4 linked regions of the Homo sapiens genome follow. The protein of the gene in region 2 interacts with the protein of the main gene of each other region in a pairwise test. Each region holds a gene or a part of one and is shown on either strand. Other genes may lie near its edges.

What was found.
Region 1: the proteins of ELOVL4 (region 2) and VAMP4 interact in binary tests that used the Homo sapiens proteins (3 or more experiments, as listed by UniProt).
Region 3: the proteins of ELOVL4 (region 2) and LY6D interact in binary tests that used the Homo sapiens proteins (3 or more experiments, as listed by UniProt).
Region 4: the proteins of ELOVL4 (region 2) and BNIP3 interact in binary tests that used the Homo sapiens proteins (3 or more experiments, as listed by UniProt).

Annotation. Positions count from the first base shown.
Region 1 is NC_000001.11:171,699,618-171,704,067, forward strand, and holds the end of VAMP4 (vesicle-associated membrane protein 4), read right to left. Parts: 3' UTR 543-4,450; downstream 1-542. UniProt on the Homo sapiens protein: Involved in the pathway that functions to remove an inhibitor (probably synaptotagmin-4) of calcium-triggered exocytosis during the maturation of secretory granules.
Region 2 is NC_000006.12:79,937,533-79,944,576, forward strand, and holds part of ELOVL4 (very long chain fatty acid elongase 4), read right to left. Parts: intron 1-7,044. UniProt on the Homo sapiens protein: Catalyzes the first and rate-limiting reaction of the four reactions that constitute the long-chain fatty acids elongation cycle.
Region 3 is NC_000008.11:142,784,356-142,790,560, forward strand, and holds LY6D (lymphocyte antigen 6D precursor), read right to left. Parts: upstream 2,185-6,205; 5' UTR 2,162-2,184; coding exon 2,110-2,161; intron 1,333-2,109; coding exon 1,234-1,332; intron 1,102-1,233; coding exon 866-1,101; 3' UTR 527-865; downstream 1-526. UniProt on the Homo sapiens protein: May act as a specification marker at earliest stage specification of lymphocytes between B- and T-cell development. Marks the earliest stage of B-cell specification.
Region 4 is NC_000010.11:131,967,177-131,971,960, reverse strand, and holds the end of BNIP3 (BCL2/adenovirus E1B 19 kDa protein-interacting protein 3), read left to right. Parts: intron 1-427; exon of another isoform or gene 428-990; coding exon 991-1,097; exon of another isoform or gene 1,098-1,173; coding exon 1,174-1,323; exon of another isoform or gene 1,324-2,306; coding exon of another isoform or gene 2,307-2,334; intron 2,335-3,391; coding exon 3,392-3,437; 3' UTR 3,438-4,277; downstream 4,278-4,784. UniProt on the Homo sapiens protein: Apoptosis-inducing protein that can overcome BCL2 suppression. May play a role in repartitioning calcium between the two major intracellular calcium stores in association with BCL2.

The sequences.
Region 1 (4,450 bases), on a different chromosome or scaffold from region 2:
CCCAGCCACTTGGGAGAACTGAGGTGGAAGGATTGCTTGAGCCCAGCAGTCTGAGACTGCAGTGAGTTGTGATCGCACCACTGCACTTCAGCCTGGGAGACAGAACAAGATCCTGTCTCAGAAACAAAAACAAAAAGACACAGTTTAGTGTGTGGGTGGAGGGAGGCTAGAGAGAATGAACATTACTCTGGTTGCCTAAAGCACCAGGCAGCTGAGGGACAGGATCAGGTTTTCTGATTGGGACATGTAAGTTTAAGAGAAAACTGCCTGCCTTCCTCTCCTACAGACACTGTGGACTGAGGTAAAGACATTGCTTTACTGAGTTAAAAATCACTAAGAAATTCTTCTTAGATTTTGTCAGTATCAGGCATAATTTTTGGTGAAAGAATGCCTTTTCTTTTTCTTATTTTTCCTCCATGCACTTTATTGGGAAAATAGGATAGATTAAATCAGGGGTGATTATCCAGATGTTATTGTTAAATAAGCTATGCTTTGAAGTTAAGGCAACAGGTAACACATATTGAATAAGCCAAAGTGCTTAATTTTTGTTTTCTATGAAATAGTTTATTTCATTGTTCACTATGGAGGGGCTACAAATACACTTCTGATATTAACACAAAGGTCTAAACTTTGCAACACTGGTAAAAATGGTTATGAGGAATTGAGAAGCTAGGGAACAGGGCACATGACATTTACATTTGCTCATCTCCCACTATACATTTCAAAACATCAAAGGCACTTACCAAAGTGATTAAATAAGGGAGTGTGGAATTTAAAATAATGACATATACCCAAGACACAAAATAAAGGACTTGAATTTTCTTATAGTTTGATTTCTAACATTTTACTGACTAAAATCTCTGCTAATTATGTAATCTACTTTGTGGCTTTAAAATATTGGATACTTTGATTTTAAGACTACTTTAAATGAAAAGAACCTAATGGAATACCATAAAGCCAGAGTTTTTCCACACCCAATTACAGTAGAAGAGCACCCCTATATCCAGGCAAAAGCAAAAGGCCCCACTCTTCAGTCACTCATATTGCTTCTCCAGAGAGCACTGTGGAGTCACCTCTCACTGATATACTAACATGTGGCATCTTTGTGGCTTCATAGGCACATTCATTCAACACACATTTATCTAGCATCTGCCAAGGTTCACAGCACTGTGCTGGGTGCTGGGGAGACAGAAACATGGTGTGGTGCTTACTTTAACAAGCTTACATTTATCCCCTGTAATTGGGTTGGTCATGCTTTCTTTTCAATTCCTACTGATTTGTTCCAAGAAGCTTCTTGGAATAAAACAGAAGCCAGAATAAATGCATTTGTATTCCCATCCCTAATTCTACTTGGTTTCCAGAAGAAAAAAAAAATCAGAATAAGACTATCTCAAAGTATTAAAGAGGATCTAAACCCTACATCAATCTAAAGCATTTAGACAAATGCATTTTTAGACAAAAGCATTTAGACAAATTTCATTTGTCTACAACATGGAAAAAACAAGTTAAGAAGTAGAGCACCTTTCAGCCCTTACTACATTCTAAAACAAACTTGTAAATGCTTTCAAACTGACTTATGCTCTTACTCTCAACTCACAGAAAAATGGAGTCCAATCACATTTCCATGTGAAAACACAAAATTAGGTTAACAGAACAGTCATCCTTGACATAGTAATACTCTGACAATACAATTAAGGGGACATCTTCTAATGGCATTTGTTCTTAACATGGAAAAACAATTTCTTGCATATTTTCTAATCATAGTGTATATACAGATGTAAATACAGAGTCAATGTGTGCAATGATGCTGACAAGGCATCAAGCATGTTTTAGAGTATACCGGCAATGAGAGATTTCAATTACTTTATATTCCTGCCTTCTCAGTCTGTACACATATTATCATTTACAGGATAGTCACATACTATACAGAATTGAAAGATGCCAATTTTTGCTATCAAAAGTGCTGAAGTTATAATTTCCTAATACAGACTATTGAAATGCACAGAAAGACTACAATAGGCAATCTATAGCAGGGCTAACAAAGTATTTCTATATCTCATGTCTATTAATTACCCTTCCTCCATCTTATATAATATTCCATCTTCAGTAATGAACTTTTATCTAATTAAGAAATCCCCCAGTTTATAAAATCTGAGGGCAATTTCCAGTGAACTTTGTCAGGATAGAGGAACCAAATGACCACAGGTATTACTGAGTTATAATAAGAAGGAGTAACCAATTAATCAGTATTATAACAACAAAATTGCTGCAAGGCAATAGGCTTCTGTAATTAAACATAAATCACAAAGGTATGGATTCAGGCATCAAAATAGTGACGTGATTTCACTGAGTATCAACTAGTATTTGCAAAGCTACTTGAATTTTTCTGTTGATCTTCACTTGTTGTTAAATAATGATAGTTTTGATGGTGGTAAAACTTCATTTTTCAAGTGCAGGATGATCTGAGCTGAATGAGAAAAAAAGTAATTAAGGGAGGGAATAAAGGTAGGCCTGGCATCAGTTTGAACAATATATTTTTTTCTTCTGTTTTTGATCGTAAGAGGGCTTATATCTCCAAGGTTACCACAATAAAGTCATAACCATGCCAGCCATTTTAAGGATTTCAGGATTAATCAAGACCAAGAAAGATGAAATGATGAATTACAAACCAAGCCATCACTACTACAAAGTTCCATGAGTGATAATTCTGTTACCCATATCCCAGGCAGCAATATGTTTAAATTACAAAGACAGTGACATATATATTGTCAAAAAATTTTACTGTTACTTATTATTTAAATTTAAAAATTTTATAATTTTACATTTTGTAATTATTTATTTAAAAGTGGCATATTTTATTAAAAGGAACACTGGAAATATGGATACTTTTTGAGAAGTAATCTTCATCTTCACTTGTAGATATTATGGAGAAACCAGATTTCTACATCAACTAATGGAAAATTAACCACTTATGAGCCTAGTTCCAATTCAAATAAAGGACATACATACAAATGTTAGGACTGATTCTGTCCATTCAGTTAAAATATTTCCATTCCTGAATTATTAGCTACTGAAATTCTAAAAATGCTCATTTTTCTGGGTATCTTAACTTAAAAGATTTATTAGCTGTTCAGATGCTGTTTATATTAATTGACATTTACAAAGAGCATAGAGACCAAAGACAATATACACTATAGTATGTAAGACCTTTATCTCCTTCTAAATGCTCTAAGCAAACTATAAAATTTAGTAATTCTATTTAGATCTTCTTAGATAACTTGCAGGTGTCTTGAGTGTCTCAGTCTGCTTTCTCTCTTCAAATTTTTTCCATTCTAAACAGCATTTTTTGCCTCCTAGTAATAATCCTGTAGAATTTTAAAAACAGACAAAAAAACACCAAACCCAGATTCTATGCTTTATTCATTTTGCATTAAGATGACCAAAGAAATAAAACCTAAATAAAATAAACATAAAATCATTTTTCCCTATTTAAATACTGATAATTTCTATTAACCCTATTTTTAATTTAGGGAGTTTTATATTCATATTGTCAAGATATCCAGTGCACAAGTTTCTGCAGAATCACTAATTTTATTATAAAGCTTCCTCTCCCCACACCTTAGGGGACAATGTATTTTCACTCTGACTTGTTTAAAAGACACAAGGAGGTTGGCATATTTTAAAGTTAACACATTTTTTCATTATAAAAACAGGCTTAGGTTAATGGTCACTCTCTAGCATTTGGTTACCGACTGACTGATTATCATATGTGTGCGTGTGTGTGTGTGTGTGTGTGTGTGTTTGTGTGTATATATATATATATATATATATATATATATATATATATATATACACATAGGTTCCTGACTTTCTACTACTCATTACTGTTGGCTGATGCAAAATTTGATTGTGCAACATACATCTCCTCAAGGATGAACAGGAAATGCAAAGATATAAAATTCAAAGTATTAATAGATGGTTTTGCTACTTTTTGTACTTTTGGTAAATGAGATAGTTGGAAGTTAGAGGCTATTAACTAAAATAAAATTAAGGAGTAAGTAAGTTACCTGTAAATTTCATTTACTCACATTAGGACTGACTGGTCTCTCTTTATTGGAGTTTAACAGAAAACAGACTGGACCATGACTGGCAGCTATATATTGGTCATTTTCAAATACTCCAATGACACTCTTCAATAACTTTATTATCTCCAGTTTTATGATGCCATACCATGTTTTTTCACACTGTTTAAAAATTTCCATTTCCATAATCCAATGCCAAAAAAATTACTACACATTCTCTTACACAGTCAAAAATATATTTACTGGAATGTTTTTAGTTATACCTGAGGGCAACAACATTTACAACATTTAGCTTTTGTTACACCTATAAATGTGGAAATTGCTTGCAAAACAACTGTAATATGAAAGGAACTATATTTCTGCAAATA
Region 2 (7,044 bases):
GGGATAATAACGGTACCGAGCCCAATGGAATATGAGGACTAAATGTGATAATACATATAAAACACTGGACACAGTGCCTGACACTTAGTAAGCATCCAATAAATGTTCACTATTATTACTGGGCAATAAAATGGTATTTATTGAATAAATAAGTAGGCTATGTTGCATTATAAAAAGGTCACTGTTGGGAAGGAGAAAGATCTTGATCCTATTCCAACTCTGTTACTTTCTAGCTATGTAGCTTTGAGTCTATTTCTTCATCTATAGATGGTTAAATAATATCTAACTTATAGAGATGATCTGAAAATTAAATATAAGGTGTATCAAATACAGTACTACAGCATCTTAAAATGGTCCTATACTAAATGCTCAATAAATGGTAGTGAGTTTCATCATGTGCAGACGATATCTGGTTTCAAATTCCTGACCTCAATGATCCACCCGCCTCGGCCTCCCAAAGTGCTGGGATTACAGGCGTGAGCCACCATGCCCAAGTGCAGGTGATGTCCAAATTCATGACTTCAGAAAATGGCCTATTCATAAAAGCCAGTTCATAAGGGAAAAGGAGACAATTTCAAGGGAGAAAATATATCTCGAGAGAGAGAGCTGAAGAATGTTGCCTCGTTTCCTGGAAGCCAAGATCAGAATACAAGTAGTTTCCTTCTCTCCTTGTTTCCAATTTTGCTGGGCTTCTCAGAAAAAGTAGTCATAAAACTTAATCTGGGAGTTCCAAGTTCAACCATCCACCCAATGCTGCCAATGAACTCAAAGCTTTAAGAAAATTGAAATGGTGTTTCCCTTTAGCAAAAAAGATGGAAGATACCATTAGAGTGTGTGAGTGTGTGAGTTAATGGGAACTTTAGCCAAAATCTTCCCTTGACTCTAACAGTTCTATAAGTTGAATAGCCACTGGGTAAAATACGGTTAGTCCTGAATGAATTTCATTATCCTTTCACTAACAAGTTTCTAGCTCTTGTATTATGCAATTTGGCAAATACTTTCATAATTCACTTTGAATACACTTTTTTTAAACAATCCTACACCGTCATATGGAAGTTAACCATCTTCTCAGGCTAAATATCGCATTTTGTATTCTACATATATTCACATATTTGTGTATGTATATAGTATATGAATAAATATCACTTTGTAGTTTAATCTCATACACCAGCCTTTATAGCACCTTTGAATATTTAGATGTCTTTCTTTAGATGATCTTTGGTAATATTATGACTTTGTTCAGATTTAGTATTCTAAACAGTGATACTCTGTAGATAACAATAAAAGAAAAGGTAAAATAAAAGAGAAACACAGATTACAGGCCTGATTATTTCTTTCTTGCTTGGCTAGTGTGACGGGAAGACAAGAGCACTGGGCTAGGGACAAAACAACCCATGCACATTCATTTGCACTATAGTGACCACCTACAAAAGTTACGTAACTTCTGTAAATCTCAAAGACTTCTAAATATATGGAAAAAATGCCTTCAAGGCCTATCTCCCAGAGTTATTGTGAAGTTGTTTGTAAAACCATAAAGCAAAATACAAAGCTAAAGTTTTCTTTCTTGTTATTTGCTACTTTCTAGCCACTCGGATTTTTTTTAAGCCAACAGCTATATAGTCTCTTTATAAAGTCATTTTACTTTAAATTGAAAAAATAAAGAAGAATTGACTGTTTTACCATTGAGCACTAAAGAGATCATTTCTACAGGTGCTAATGTATTAATTTTATAATATATGAAATTCTTGCATTGCGGTAAAAAGAAAAGCACATAACATAAAATATACCATCTTAATCATTTTTAAGTGTACAGTCCAGTATCATTAAGCATATCCACATTGTTGTGACTCTCTGGAACTTTTCTATCTTGAAAAACTGAAACTCTATACCTATTAAACAAGTCATCAGTTCTCCTTCTCCCCAGGCCCTAGCAAACATCTTTCTACTTTCTGTTTCTATTAATTTGACTACTTTATTTATTTATTTATTTATTTATTTATTTATTTATTGGGCCAGGATCTTACTCTGTCACCCAGGCTGGAGTGCAGTGGCACAATTATGGTTCACTGAAGCCTTCACCTCCCAGGTTCAAGTGATCCTTCTCCCTCAGCCTTCTCAATAGCTGAGACTAGAGGCATATGGCACCAGGCCTGGCTAATTTTTAATATTTTTTTGTTGCTCATGTTGGTCTTGAACTCCTGGGCTCAAGTGATCCTTGAGCCTCCACCTCCCAAAGTGCTAGCATTATAGGCATGAGCCACTGGGCCCAGCCCGAATTTGACTACAGTAGAGGGTCCATATAAGTGGAACCATAATGCCACATACATAATTATCTTTTTGTGACTAGACTATTTCACTTAGTAACAAGGTTCATCTATGTTGTAGCACATGTCAGAATTTCTTTCCTTTTTAAGACTGAATAATATTCCATTGTATGTATATACCACGTTGCGTTTATCCATTTATCCAACACTGGACATCTGGGTCGTTTCCACCTCTTAACTACTGTGAATAATGCTGCTATGTACGTGTGTGAAAAAATATATAAAATTAGTTAAAAACACACATCTGTGCTCAAGTTTTTGTTTGATAAGTGAATAAAAATGAAAACAGAAAAGCTTGTTTCTTGGAATTCTGCAGTTCAAAATCACAAATGCTTTTATGTGATTATACCTGACAGTGAGTAACTGATTTCCTCAGTGGACTAATGCATTTGTCTTTCAAATTCCAAAAATTTTACTCTAATACAATATAATCATAAATAAAACATCATTCTAAGGTATTTGTTTACAAATGGTAATATTTCATGAAGAAAAATATATGGCAAAAGATTTTAAAAATTTGTATTTTGATTAGTTAAGGAACATACTTATACCAAAACCATTTAGTTTCTTTTGTTTTCTCTTCTGTAAGACCTACACATTTTTATCAATTTTACAAAAATCTTAAGCCATACTTCCAAACTTAAGTAAAAAATGCTCATATATAAAGTGTTTATAATAGAAAATCATTTGTAATGATGTATGTTAAAATTTCACATTTTCTATTGGAAAAATATGAAGACTGAGTTTAGACTGATATCTAGGCTGCTGTTTTAGGAGATGTTATAAGGATTCAATAAACTAAGCCTTAAAGGTTATGTAGTTCAACCCTCTCACAGCACAGGTAGAAATAAGAGACCCAAAGAGTCATGAATAACTTGCCTAAAACGACATAATATGCCATCCTCAAAAGCTGAGTATCACAAAATAAATGTAATATATAATTGAGATAATTTTATTCTTTAATATTATTGCTACTGTTTTCGATAAAATAGTTGGCTCTTGGTTATTCAAGGAATCCAGATAATTAAACAGGTATAGTGTTACAGCAACAAAAGCAATGTTATTTCAAAACAGACGCTTAAATATCTGTATACTTTTGTTGCTCTATTCCTCTACCTATTTCTTATAAAGCAAATTTTAAAAAGTAAAAAGAACTAAATAAGAATCTGTTATTTGTACTATTTAGGCAGTGTTGATAACAGTTTTGCTGGAAAAAAATTTTATTTACTATAAAGAATGAGGTTTCTGAATCCCTGATAAATGTATATTTATTTGAAATTGCTTTACCTATTCCAAGAATAAAGAAAGTGATATCTATATCTAGACTTTTAGAGTCAGGTAGGACCTTACAGATTACCTAATTTAACCCTCTTAATTTACAGAGAACAATGCTGAGAATTGGGAAGGCAAAGGAACTTGTCCAAACTCTCATAGCAAATCAGCAGCAGACCAGGACTAAAACCTAGGTCATCTAAATCCCAGTCCAGAATTCTTCCCATTCACTATACCACACTGCCCTCCTCACTTCCACACAAGGCAATGCTTCTGCACAGACAATGAAGAGAACAATCATATCTGATTTTATATGTCTTGGAATCTTCATTTTTTATCTGTTTTGTGCTTCTAAATGACTTAATGGCCTGATTTACTCATTAAATTTAGTGAACGGCAACTGAATTAATGACCAACTCATAAAAAATATCATTCTTTTAAAGAACTCTCTGGCCGGGCACAGTGGGTCGTGCCTGTAATCCCAGCACTTTGTGGGGCTGAGGTGGGCAGATCACATGACACCAGGAGTTTAAGAGCAGCCAGGGCAACATGGTGAAATCCCCACTCTATGAAAAACAAAAACAAAAACCTTCTGTAATTTAGTGTGGTCTAAAGCCTTATTCATGTTTAGCAACCACAATATATCATGATTCAAAATTATGCTAGATTAAGAGGGTCATCTCCTGATACATATCATATCAACAAATATATGTGATAATCTCTGATGTTGGAGAGAAAGATACAAAGGAGTGAAGTGGTAAATAATAACGAAAGTTTAAACAGTTTGACACTAGGGTCATAGAAGGAATGGCACAGGAAATACGTGAGTAATTACTAAAGACAATGAGCTCCTGTGAGACAACAACTTGCTCCAGGGTACCATAAACAAGAAAGGCTTTGCAAAGGAGGACTATTGTACTGGGTTCTGGTAAAAGGTATCTGGAGAGGTAAACAGGGAAAAGGTGGGTAAAGGCAAGGGGAATGGTGGGATGAGAAACATAAAGGTGGACATGTACACATTTTACTTAAGGGTCAGTGAGTTATCCCAGTTGGCTAGAGCTGCAGGTCTTTGGGCAGGGGAATACTGAAGGATCAAGCGAGAAAGTTAATGTGGACCTTGGCTTTAAAAGGCCATGTGTTTCCTCCCATCTCCTTTCTGAAATCCAAACCCACATGATTTTAAAATATATATTCTAATAGAAAATAAAACAATAGTACCTTCGTTTGTTAACAGGCAAAATGTCCTGATAATGAAGACGAAAAAAACATCTAAAGTGAAAAAAGATAGACTGTTACACTACTCATTTCGGTGTGCTAATATATGCCTAATTCAGAATAATAAGTGGCTTAACAAATGAAAATACTTACGTTAATAATGTTAAAGCATTTACAGGTGACATTATCCACAGGACTTGAGCAAAAAAATAAGAAAACAAATTGAATTTTTAAAGGATGACCAAGTGCTCTGTGGCTCTTAAGTTTACAAAAGTGCCATCTGATATAATTATCTGCATAATTCTTAAAACTTTGTCTTCCTAAGCCAAAGAATCTAAGTTAAAATAGTTAAAACTGTGTCCTGACACCCGTTTTAGAACCTGCATTGTTTACCCTCCTGGAATTCCATCTGCAATAGGATGTTTTACTTTATGCTATCATTGGGGAATGGATAAGAGCATTAGCTATTAAAGTCTAGCAGTCTACCACCAAAAATCAAACTGTGGTGAAGGAAAAGACAATAAAAACCAAACCAAAACAAAAAACCATAAAATGGCATGGACATCCCAGAGGCTTCAAGGAGCTTATGAGTAAAGGATAATTAGGACGTCACTGAAAACAGTGACCAAGGGAGATCCCATGTTAGGAGCTGGTGATGTTTCTTTCTTTCTTTTTTTTTTTTAATTAGCTGCCTACAACTTGGAATCAGAATGTCTTTTCTCAAAGAAACATTCAAAGAAAACTGCATTACCAGGCTTAGCCAAACAAATAAACCTATTTTAGATAATAACATAGATGAAAAACTAAACATTAACTGTGACGAATAATAAAATTAATGTAAGCATACTGTACAATACTTAAAATACATGCTCCTCTGGGACCTAGCAATCCCTAAGACAAACCTGCTTTTACTTCAGCTTATTTGAGCTGAGTTAAACATCCCCTCCCACTAGCCCCCAGCTTCATCAAACCTGGATGACTCACTGGCCTGACCCTTAAGCACCTTCCCAGTTTCCATGGTTTTCAGTCAAGCTGTTCCCCTTGCCTTTGACACCTTTTGCCCTAGTATGCCTCTCCAAATACTCTGACAGTACTCACATCAACTCCTCATTCAAGGGTAGAGGGAAGTAAACTGTGGTGAAACAGCTAAAATATTCTAAAAACAACTGTATATTCCTTTCACTTAGGAGAAGTAGAGATGAGAAGAGCAGGGAAGGACTTTTCTGATCTTCCCTAGGCCCCAGCTAGTCCTGAGTCTGACAGATCACACTGCCTCCAGACCATGATATCAAGGAAAGGGGAATGACAGTGACCCCCTAGACTTTGCAAGATGCATGAGGGCAGTGACCAAGTGTCCTCCTTTCCTTTCCAGAGCCTAGAACTGTGCCTGTACATGGCAAGTAAATACGGAAAGAAATGGTATCATAAGCCTGGCTTCCACATTTCGTCATCCTACAGCTCTCCTCCCTCTTCCTGTACCACTCATCCCTTCTTTCTGACCCCTCCAAAGTTAATTCAAGGACCCAGCAAGTTATGTTCTAACTGCAACTACCAAGTAGACAATTTTTTTCACCAAAATGCAGGGTACTATATCTGCGAAAAGAGGGCCAATGCCAATCATTACCACCCCCAACCAACAGACAGCACCCATACCCTGTGAACAACAGCTATTTAGAAACAAATGGTCAGAAGATACATGGCCTCACAGGAGACACCTGGCTTTACCGTAAGCATCCTACTAACTCTCTAGGGTGTTTATATGCTAAATGTCAGGTATGCAAAAAAGCTATTAAACATTTATTAAAAGCATGAATAAATGAATAATGTAGATAAGTTGGGTATTCATAGATTGGGGAATATTTAGATTCATCAGTTTAAAAAATGTATATACAACTTTTATTAGATGTATACGTTGAGCCTAGGACTCCAATCCTAATAATTTAAATGTACTCATGAAGTGAAAGAATAGAAGAAAAAAACTAACATGATGACATGGAATACCTACTCTAATACTAACAACTAGTATAAAGTCCTACACCAGCCTATACTTTAACATAAACCAACGCTAATTTCCTCGTTCAAAATGTCTACAAATACAGAGAAATAAAAATTATTTTTGTTGTTTTTCTAAAAGTATAGCTCTTTCAAACTTTCAATTCCAATGTACAAAGTGTTAATACTGTAGTAAAAGTAACATTTTTGTTGTTAACATTATTATGGACCATATTTTGTA
Region 3 (6,205 bases), on a different chromosome or scaffold from region 2:
CAGTCTAGCTTCACCCTGGTGAGGTCTGGCCAAGGGGCTGCTGGGTTCCCATAGATAGGGTCCATGGGACTTTCCTGGATGGTGGCTGAACTTTCCCTGGGCAGCTGGACTTGCCTTGGCGATGGCTGTAGGTAGTCAGTGCCTACTTGGCTCCAAAGCTGGGGTTGGGCCTGGGGTGTCCCAAGCCGGCCTCTCTGGAGGCTCCTGAACCCCGGTCTCAGAGACATGACCCGGGGTGAAAGGCTGAGGGGTTCCTTCTCCCCTAGGTGCTATGTGTGGGAGGGGCCTGCGAGCCCTCTTACCCTGTGCTCCTACTCAGGCCTCACCCCAGGAGTGCCCTCCACCTCTGGGGCGGTGGGAGGCATCTGAGCAGCCTGCCCCTTCCAGGGTGGGGACGGACGGTGCCACCTCAGGCATCACCCCACGACTGGCCCCAGGGGACATGTGCTGGAGGCTCAGGGTACCTATGTGGCCTGATATCCGCCCCTCAGCTCCTCCGTCCCAGAATAGCACAGCCACAGCCACACTGGTTTAAATCATTTATCTCCATGTAGAGATTTGAGTACAAAAATAAACGGCAACAAAACAGAAGGAGTGTGAAATCCGGGGATCCACAGGGCTTCTGTCCTCCACCTTCCATGCAGCTGGGGGCTGCATCCTCTGTGGGGTGGCTTCATCCTCTGTGGGGTCTGTGGGGCCTGCTCCAAGTCATCAGCATTCCATGCCCACCTGGACCTGGTCCCAGACTTTCGGGGAAGCCCTCAGCCTGGGGCTCCTGGCACCCCCGTTGCGGCTGGGGAAGAGAGGTGTGGAATCCCCAGAGAAAGGGAAGGAAAGGCATGAGGGGCCTTCCCTGGGGGGAAGGTCACAGGCTGGGGGCTAAGATGACGGCCAGGAGGCTCAGGGCCAGCCCCAGGCTGAGGGCACTGTGGGCGAGGGCGGTGCGGGTGGGTGCAGCGTTGTGCAGCTTCTCATTGCACAGGTCCTCCTGGCAGCACTGGGTGGAGCTGGTGCCGCTGCTGACCTGGCCTTGCAGGGTGTAGCTGGGTGTGCACGACTCCGCACAGTCCTTCTTCACCAGATTCCCCCTCAGAGGCTCCACTGGGCACAGGTGAGTGTGGTCAGGCCAGGCAGCCACCTCTGCCCCCCACCTCCCCACAACCTTCCAGCCAACACCCACAACAGCCAGGGATGTCCCCCAGCCCCAGGGACACCTGGACAGATGCTACCCACCTGTGTTCGTGGTCTTGCAGAAGCGAGAGCTGGCCGGGCAGACCACAGAATGCTTGCAGTTGCTGGAGCTGGTGCACACGTGGCAGCGCAGGGTAAGGGCTGGCGGGGAGGGAGTCCGGCTCAGCGGGCCCAACAGAGGCCTCCTGGTGACTCAGCAGGGCCTGCTCCCCCACCTGCAGAGACCCCTCCTGGACAGAGGCCCTGCTGCCCTTGCCCTAGGCCCCCAAACCCGGGCTCTGGGTCCTGGCAGGGCATGTGCCCTGAGTGCAGCCTCAGGGGACATGTATTCCAGCCTGGGCCGGCTTGGAAGAGGTGTCCTGCCCTGCCCCTGTCTAGGGTGTGTTGCAAGCCTTTCCTCCAAGGTCTCAGGGAGCTCTGCGACTGCCAAGAGGACACTGGCTCTTGTCCCCACCCCAGGGGATGTCCCTGGAGGAGATGGCTATGTTTCTGAGGGCCTGACGGAGCTAAGGCCCCGGGGGCAGCCAGCTTGGCTGCTCTGAGCCTATGACAGGAAGGGCTTGGTGGCCTTTGGGCTGTCCTGGGCTGTGCTGGGGGAGACCTGGGGACCGGGAGGGGCTGGTGGCAGGGACTAGATGGCCGCTCTCCCAGTGAGAAGCATCTCAAGACAACCCCCTGCTCCACTCTCTCAGGGTCCGTGACTCCAGGAGTCAGTTCTAAGATCCTCAGATTCTGAAACATTGTAAATCTGACACTCGTTAAGATTCGGGCTCCATGTTGTTTTAAATTTGAAGAGTCTAGCACCCACAGTGTCGGGGTTCTCTGTGCCTAGATGTCGTCAGCTCCAGGCTCCTAGTATTTGGTGACCACACAGGCCACAGCCGCCCACCCGCCCGTCCCCTTGGCCCAGCCCCTCACCTGGCCCTGTAGCCACAGCCAGGGCTGCAAGGAGCAGCAATGCTGTCCTCATCTCTGATGTCGTCTGGGAGCAGTGCGGGCCCCTGCATTGCCAAGGCCTTATAGGCACGGGCTGGGCGGGGGTGGGCAGTCCGCCAGCCAGCGGCATTCTGCAGGGCTCTGTGCAAGCGTCAGCCCAGGACGGGCACCTGCCCCACCCTGCCTGGCCCACGCCCACCAGCCTGGCTGTCGCTGGGCGCTGCCCCTGCTGCCCCCCGCCAGGCAGAGGTCTGCCCTCCGCAACGGGGCCCAGTGGCCTCCTGGCCCTGCTGTTCCTGCTGCTGTGCCTCCATCTCTCCCACTTTCACTTCTCTGTCTCTGTGGGTCTTGTTCTCTCGCTGCCGTCCGTTCCTGGGTCACTTTGTCTCTGACCTGCCACCCGCTACCCCCCGCCCCCCACCCCCCACCATCCATCACCATCCTGTGTCTTTGTCCCTGCATTCCCCCCATAGTTCCCTCAATAGAGTTGCAGCCTGTGCCCGGTGCCCTGTGGGTGCCCGTGGGTGTCCAGGGCAGGGGAGGTAGGAAGGGCAGGTGCTGGTCCTACTCTCCTGGCTCTGGGCTCAGGGTTGCTGCCGGGGATGCAGAAGGTCCTTGAGCTGCAAGGGCTCGGGGTGGCTGTGGGCTGATGGGGTGTGTGAGGCAGAGGCAGAGGCAGAGGCCACTCCGAGGCAGGGAGGGCAGCTGGGGCAGCAGTGAGGTGAGCACTGGACAGAGTGAGGACTGTGAGGACCCGGCCCTCGAAGTTGCCTGGGGAGCCCTGTGGGCAGAAGGCCCGGGCTGTGGAGGCAGCAACTCCACCCTGCGTTGTGCAGGGAGAGACTGAGCCCTCCTGGTCTCCACCAGCCCTGCCTCCCGCCCTCCAGGGCCCCAGAAGCCCTCCCCGTGGGATTCCTTCCCCCACTCTCCAGGCCCCTCCTGCTACGTTGGGGGCAGCGCCATCCCGGCCACTTTGTAACTATTGCTCTAGGTGTCCCGGCTCCAGTCTCCCCAAAATCGTGAACTCTTTGGGGCTGGGCCCCAGCACCCAGGGCCTCAAAGCAGGTTCTTGGTCTGCTGCCCGTTGAGTGGAGGCCAGTCCCCGCCTTCACCCTCTTTATACTCACAGGAGGGACTTTCTTTCCCTGGAGACGGGGTCTCTGAGCACCCACCGCCTCGCGCAGGAGCCCACCTCTTGGGGCCCCCATCCACCTGCTCAGCCCAGCACGCTCTGCCGCTCGCCTGTGCTGGGCAGCACCCACCTGAGTGGTGTGGAGGGGCCCACAGACTTGCTTTGCCCCTGCCCTGGCTAGGCTGAAGGTGAGTGGGAGCCGGGGCACAGATGGAGGTCAGCCCTGGGCCCAGCCTCCTGCCGCCGCTGCCACGTGGCTGATGAACAGACAACAACAGGCCCAGGGCAGGGCAGGGCCGGTTCCGAGGAGGGTGGTCCTGGGCTGGGCTGAGGCTTTTGGGAGCACCGTGGGTACTGGGGCCAGTCAGGCCTGGGCTTGAGACAGACCCTCTGGCCCTTCCTCCCGGCATCTCTCCCTTGCTGAGCCCCACGTCTCAGATGCCGGGGATCCCAGCAAATGTCTCCTGAGAATGCTCCTGGCCGGGCTCTCCCTGACACAGTGCCGGGGCCTGGAGGATCCACCTACAGGAGGGGTTGCCTGGTGGTGCCTTTAGAAACCAGGGTGCAGGCGGGAGCCCCCTGGGGCAGCCCCACATTTGCATCTGGTGCCTGGCCCTGGCTGGAGCTTGGTGGGGACGTGTGTAGTCTCACTTGCCAAGGCAGGTGACCCAAAGGTCCATGCCCCCACCCAGAGAGAGGAGGTTTCCTCCAGCTCCAAGGCCCTGTGTCCATGGGTCACAGTGAGAGGCATGGGCAGCTTGGGGGAAGGTGCTTCCAGGGGCCTTGGGAGGCAGAGCTCAGGGCTTGGTGGCGGGGTGATGACTCGGTGGGCATGGCAGGTGGGGAGGGTGACTCACTGTGGCCAGGGGCATGAGAGCTGCTGGAAAAACAGGTTTGGAATTCCTGCTGGGTCTGGTGGAGCTGGAGGGTCCGGGATGTCAGGTGGCCTGAGAGTGGGTTCTGAGTGTGGGGCCATGGGGGAGTGTGCTCCCCACACCTGGGGCTGGAGGAGGGCCCTGCACACCTGGCTCACCCCCGTGGGACACCTCAGGCATCACTGTGGCTGCGTCCCTGCCAGGCATGGGAGCCGGAGCGGGGTTCCAGTTTTGTGGGATGAGGGCCTCTGACCTGGCAGGGCTGCCCACGAGGATGAGCTGCCCATCCCAGGTGGTCCTAGCAAAAGCATGAACAGCAGCCCTACACAGTTCACTTTCAGGAGAAAGCGGGTGCTTCTGATGCCAGGAGCCCTTGGACAGCTGAGCTTCTGGGGACAGTGCAGTCAGGGAGGGTTTCTTGTAGGCAGTGACCTGACTAGAGCCTCAGAGCCAGGGATTGGAATGTGGAGAGGAGACACTGTGGCCCCTCATGTCAGTCCCTGCCCAGTGCTTGTTCACTGGTGAGGAAGTGAGGGCCAGAGAGCTCCAGGCACGTTCTGGGGCAGAACCTGGTGGGGTCTCAAGCACTTCTCACTATCACCGCCAGCCTTTCCCCCCTCCTCCCTCCTCTGTTCTCTAGGGCCTGGGCCCTCCCCCACTCCACCCCTCCCACTCAGCCCCTGGAGCTGGGGCCCTGGGCCTGGTTGGTACCATCAGGGTATTGGCAGCAGAAATGACACCTGGGAGAGGCGACGAAGGGGCCTGGGGCAGGGAAAACCACCGCCCCACCCCGTTAGCCTTGCCCCCTGCTCCCTGAACCAGGAAACCCGGCACGGGGACAAGCCCAGGCTTCTGTCTGGAGCCGAAGTTCCTTGCTCATGCCCCTTCCCCCACCTTCTGCCCCCTCTACCTTATGCTGGGCCCCTAGGAACACACAAGGGTGTGGTGGCTCAGAGAGGGAAGCGCCTGGCTTAGGGCGGCACAGCACCGTACTCCAGGCTTGCACCAGCCCAGCCCTGGGCCCTGTCCTGGCTGAATGGGTGCCTGGTGGACAAGGCGGGGCCCCGGGCTGGAGAAGCTGGCTGAGTGGGTGCCCGGTGGACAAGGCGGGGCCCTGGGCTGGAGGAGCTGGCTGAGTGGGTGCCTGGTGGACAAGTCAGGGCCCTGGCCTGGAGGAGCTGACTGAGTGGGTGCCCGGTGGACAAGGCGGGGCCGCGGGCTGGAGGAGCTGCCTGGGCTGGAGGAGCTGCCTGGGCTGGAGGAGCTGGGAAGCCCCAGGGCACAAGGAAGGGCTTCTTCACCCTCAGGCTGTTACCTGGGCAAGCCAGAATCCCAGCCACACCCCAGGGGTTCCAAAATGCATCCGTCTGCCTTGAGGCACTCCATTCATTCATTCATTCACTCACTCATTCATTCATTCATTCTTCAACATTTTATAAGGACCAACCATATGCAAGGCACTTTGGATATAATGGAAACCAGGAGAGAAGAGAGACAGGGCCCAGGTCCCAGGGCCTGCAGACCAGTAGGGAGTGGGAACAGACAATTGCTGCCTCTGTGGGACCCACAGCAGGGGTGTGATGATGTGGAGGGTGAGGATCTGGGGCTGAGAAGCCAAGGGAGGACCAACCTTGTTGGAGCTGTCTAAGCAGGGAAGGGTGTGTGGCCATTACCTGGTAAGCAGGTGGGTGTCGGGCAAGGGCATTGGGGCCCAGGTGCCAGGCCGCTTTTCTGTCTCTTTCCCCCGCAGGGGCAGGTGGCTGCCCCAAGCTGAGCGGCTGAGTGTGTGGTGTCTTTCTAGAGGCTGCCCTGATCCTCTCAGCCCCCTCACCTGCACAGATGGGGCCTCAGATGGACAGCAAGGGCCCGGCCTTGCCCGGCATCACCCAGCAAGCGGGAGCCACAGCTGGGCTGGGCCTCTGGGCCTGGGCTCTTCCCTCACACCTGGCCTCCCCACTCCTCTTTCTAGTGCCGGAGTCACCTTTACACATAGCACCACAATCTCAGGCAAAGTCTCTTTCACCTGCTTCCCAGGGCCAAGCCTGGCCCTGCCCTAGTCTTAGGTCACCCC
Region 4 (4,784 bases), on a different chromosome or scaffold from region 2:
CATGGCCTTCCAGGCAGGGTTAGTAGCTGACCCTTCCGTGCTAGCGCTTCCCTCAAGGCTTTCTTCACCAAGGAAACAAGGAGTCCCTGTTACCCAGGCTTTCTCAGGGACATCCCCTGGCCCCACTCCGAGGGGCAGCATGATTTCGGGAGCCCCAGGAGCCCTGGCTGTGGGTGTGTGGGTGCATCCAGGGCGTGCGGCCTGCTCCTGGGCACTTGGGGCTGTACCCAGCTTGGGTGTACCCAGATGTTTGGTGGGTTTGGGGAGCTATATTCTTGAGTATTTTCAATTTTATTTCTTTTTTTTTGAGACAGGGTCTTGCCGTTTTCACTGTTTTACACAAAACTTCCCCTAGTTTTAAAAGGAATTAGATGTTCAGGTACAGAATTTTGAAAATGCAAAAAAGTAGAGAAAAACACTTAGACTCTCAGATTTAAAATCCTCTTTAATGTTTCGTGCTGTTATATAATTCTGAGGATTTGGCCGCAGCTGTGGTTATGTGGACATTTCTGCCTTTTCCCTCCTGCTTATCCCGGAAGCATCTTGTAAACCTGCTCACTATACAGTGTCCCTTCCTTCGTCATGTCCCTGTTTTGAGCCGTTTTCGGCTGTTTTCATTTTCTTTTCTTATAACCAGTGCTGCCGTCACCATCTTTGCCCTCATGTCACGTGACTTCCCTAGGACAGTGTTTGCCGCTGTCAGTACCCCCAGAATCTCACAGTGAACCAAATGTATTTACGCCCTGAGTGGGGCTCCCCCAGAGGTGATCTGTCCCTGGAGGCGGCGAGCGTGCTGTGAGCCGGGAGTGCGGCGCGGCCCGGGGAAGGCCCCCAGCCCCAGGACTCCCCTTGGACCACGGTCCGAGGCACTGACATGTGCCTCTGGGCTCTTGAATTGAGCCTGCGGATCTGAAGCTCGGGTGGGAGCTGGGTGCTTTCCCGTGTCACGTGTGGTACACTGATCTGCCTTTAACATTGACTTTATCTTAGTCTGAGGAAGATGATATTGAAAGAAGGAAAGAAGTTGAAAGCATCTTGAAGAAAAACTCAGATTGGATATGGGATTGGTCAAGTCGGCCGGAAAATATTCCCCCCAAGTGAGTGTGTTCTCAGTGTCACGGGGGCACCCCTTGACAGAGGACACATCAGCTGACACGTTTCTTCCCGCCTCAGGGAGTTCCTCTTTAAACACCCGAAGCGCACGGCCACCCTCAGCATGAGGAACACGAGCGTCATGAAGAAAGGGGGCATATTCTCTGCAGAATTTCTGAAAGTTTTCCTTCCATCTCTGCTGCTCTCTCATTTGCTGGCCATCGGATTGGGGTAGGTGATGTGACTGTGTGACTCCTGTCATGGCATGTCGTGGGGCGATTCTGGGTTGCAGTGATTTATTCGTAACCTGTTTCCTGAAGTCCAGATCATCAGTTACAGCTTGGTGCATTTTCACAAACACCCACGTAGTCACTGTTCAGGTCCAGAAACCACCAGCCTGCAGCCCCCAAAGGCCCCAGCACAGGCGCCCTGTGGTGCTGCTGTCTGGCCTGACGAGTCTGCCTGTTGCTCACTGAATATAAACGGAGTCAAAGCAGGGCTTCTTAGGTCTGACCTCTTTGTCCTGTGTGTAGGTGAAAGCAGTCTCATTTCTGTGTAGTACTGTGGCGGGAATGCACCCAGCTCTGCTGTAGGTGGAGGGTCTCAGTTACCTGCTGTACTTCCTCCAGACAGGACTGTTGTTCTAGTAACTCTCAGCAATGAAGGAACCAATGCAGTCTCCGACTTTACTGGCTTGAGTTTCGCTCTTGTTGCCCAGGCTGAGTGCAGGGGCGTGATCTCGGCTCACTGCAGCCTCTGCCTCCTGGGTTCAAGCGACTCTCCTGCCTCAGCCTCCTGGGTAGCTGGGATTACAGGTGCCCACCACCAGGCCTGGCTAATTTTTGTATTTTTAATAGAGACGGGGCTTCGCCACGTTGCCCAGGCTGATCTCGAACTCAAGGGATGGCTCACCTCGGCCTCCAAAGTGCTGGGATTACAGGCGTGAGCCACCGCGCCTGGCCTTTCCTGGCTGCTTATACTCACTCACCCTGCAGAAAACACAGAGACCAGGCAGGCGCCGCTGTGGGTTCTGAAGAGCGTTCGCCGCAGCGGTGGTGAAGAGCCAGAGCGGGAAGCCAAAACGGCTCCTCCTCGGGCTGGTCCCAGCCTCTCAGCGGGGAGGAGGGCTCTAGTCCTGGCGTGCAGACAGTGTTCTGTGGCTGCCGTGTGTTGGACAGACTGGAAAGACCGGAATGCCACTGGGGGCAGGTGGGTTAGGTAGGTTGGCCAGAGGGCTCACATCTGGGGTTGAAGGAAACGGGATAAAAGCCACTGAGTTTCCTGGGCCGGGACCTGAGCGCTGCCCGTGTCTCCACCTCGCCCTCCCGTGTGCGTGGCTTTCTCCTAGCTCTTGGGCACATTCTCACGTCCCCCCCATAACCCGTCACCTTCATTTCTGCTGGTGCTTTTGGGAGTCAGACCTACAGACTGCATCAGCATCACCAGGCAGTTTGCTTTCTGGAGCCTTTTCCAGAACTGTCAAGCAGACTCTGGGGGCAAGGCCTCGGGATCCTCATTTTAAATACAAGGTTTAAGCCCTTCGTTTCAGGATGGATTTCTGCAGCCACTACTTCCCAGCTACTGTCCTTCGTCCTGCCCGGGTTTTCAGAGCCTGATGCTGCCACTGGCGACCCACACCCCCTCAGCTGCTTTTCAGAACCACACGATAAAATCTGCCCCGAAAGCTGCTGCAGCACTGTCTGCGCTCACAGTGCCCACCACACCACCGCCCACAGGCCAGGCCAGCCAGGCTTCCGATTCTGCCCTTTCCTGGAGACCCATCCTCCTCCCTCCGGGAGTGATGCCCGCTGGTCAGCTGGAGCGAGCCTCTCTATTGCCGAAAAGCCTTTTCTGACACTCCTGCATCTTTAGTTTGGGACATCTCTCCCACTACCAAACTTAAACCACATGAGGGCAGGGGCTTCATTTTTAAGCAGTTGGCTTTGGTGAGGCTGGTGGTGATGAACTAGCAACACCATCTTGCCCTGGTAGGTGACTTCCCCCAGCACTGAGTTGGAACAAAGCAGAAGCTTTCTGTGTGGAAACAGCATTCGGTTTGGTGATCCTTCTATGTAAGAATACGATCTGATGTTTTCTAAGTTAATTAATACAAAATACATATTGATAAAACACTAGATAAAAGATCACAGATAGATTCATTACAAAATTTTTATAATGGGTATAAAATCACCAGTCCCCTTGCATAAGCTCTAACCACAGTGAGCTACCCTGTTTCAGCTGTAACACAGTCTCCTGTGAATCACAAGATACATTAACTACTGATAATTTTTCTGTGAAGGATCTATATTGGAAGGCGTCTGACAACCTCCACCAGCACCTTTTGATGAAGAACTGGAGTCTGACTTGGTTCGTTAGTGGATTACTTCTGAGCTTGCAACATAGCTCACTGAAGAGCTGTTAGATCCTGGGGTGGCCACGTCACTTGTGTTTATTTGTTCTGTAAATGCTGCGTTCCTAATTTAGTAAAATAAAAGAATAGACACTAAAATCATGTTGATCTATAATTACACCTATGGGATCAATAAGCATGTCAGACTGATTAATGTCTACTGTGAAAATTTGGTAGTAAATTTTCATTTGATATTAGATATAAATATCTGAATATAAATAATTTTAATATACTAGTCATGATGTGTGTTGTATTTTAAAAATTATCTGCAACCTTAATTCAGCTGAAGTACTTTATATTTCAAAAGAATGAATAACATTGATAATAAAATCGCTACTTTAAGGGGTTTGTCCAAAATAAATATTGTGGCCTTATATATCACACTATTGTAGAAAGTATTATTTAATTTAAATGGATGCAGGTTGTCTACTAAAGAAAGATTATATATAACTATGCTAATTGTTCATAATCAACAGAAACCAAGATAGAGCTACAAACTCAGCTGTACAGTTCGTACACTAAACTCTTCTTGCTTTTGCATTATAAGGAATTAAGTCTCCGATTATTAGGTGATCACCCTGGATGATCAGTTTTCTGCTGAAGGCACCTACTCAGTATCTTTTCCTCTTTATCACTCTGCATTGGTGAATTTAATCCTCTCCTTTGTGTTCAACTTTTGTGTGCTTTTAAAATCAGCTTTATTCTAAGCAAATCTGTGTCTACTTTAAAAAACTGGAAATGGAAAAAAAAATAAATCTTTGCCAAATCCTTCAGATTACTGTATTTACATATGGTTTAAAATCAGACGTCATGATAGCTTCTTAATGAAACCAGGACTGGTCCCTATTTTGACATTATCTTTCCTACAGCAAACTTTTTAGAAAGGCTGCCTGCCGCCTTGATGTTTCACCTTTCCACGCTTAATTCGGGTGTTAAATCTAACGTTTTCATTTGTAAAAATCTTTGTTGATGCTACCTTGGAAGCAGTCATCTCTCAGTCTTACATTTGGAGAATGTGGATGGCATGACATCAGAATTCCTTTATATAATTTAACTTCAGAATAGTCTGAGATCATCGAAGCACGATGGTCAAGGGAATTCCGTTTTTGTTTTAGAGCAAATATGTTTGCTGTTTGTCTTTCATCACAAACATCAGTGGAGTTTCAGCACCTTACAGAGCTCAGTGAACCCCCTGGTCACCATCAAAGTTAGCACACAACAAAGCCAACCACGTGTCCCCCTCACAGATGACAATGGCTGAACTCTGAGTGAAACCACCTGT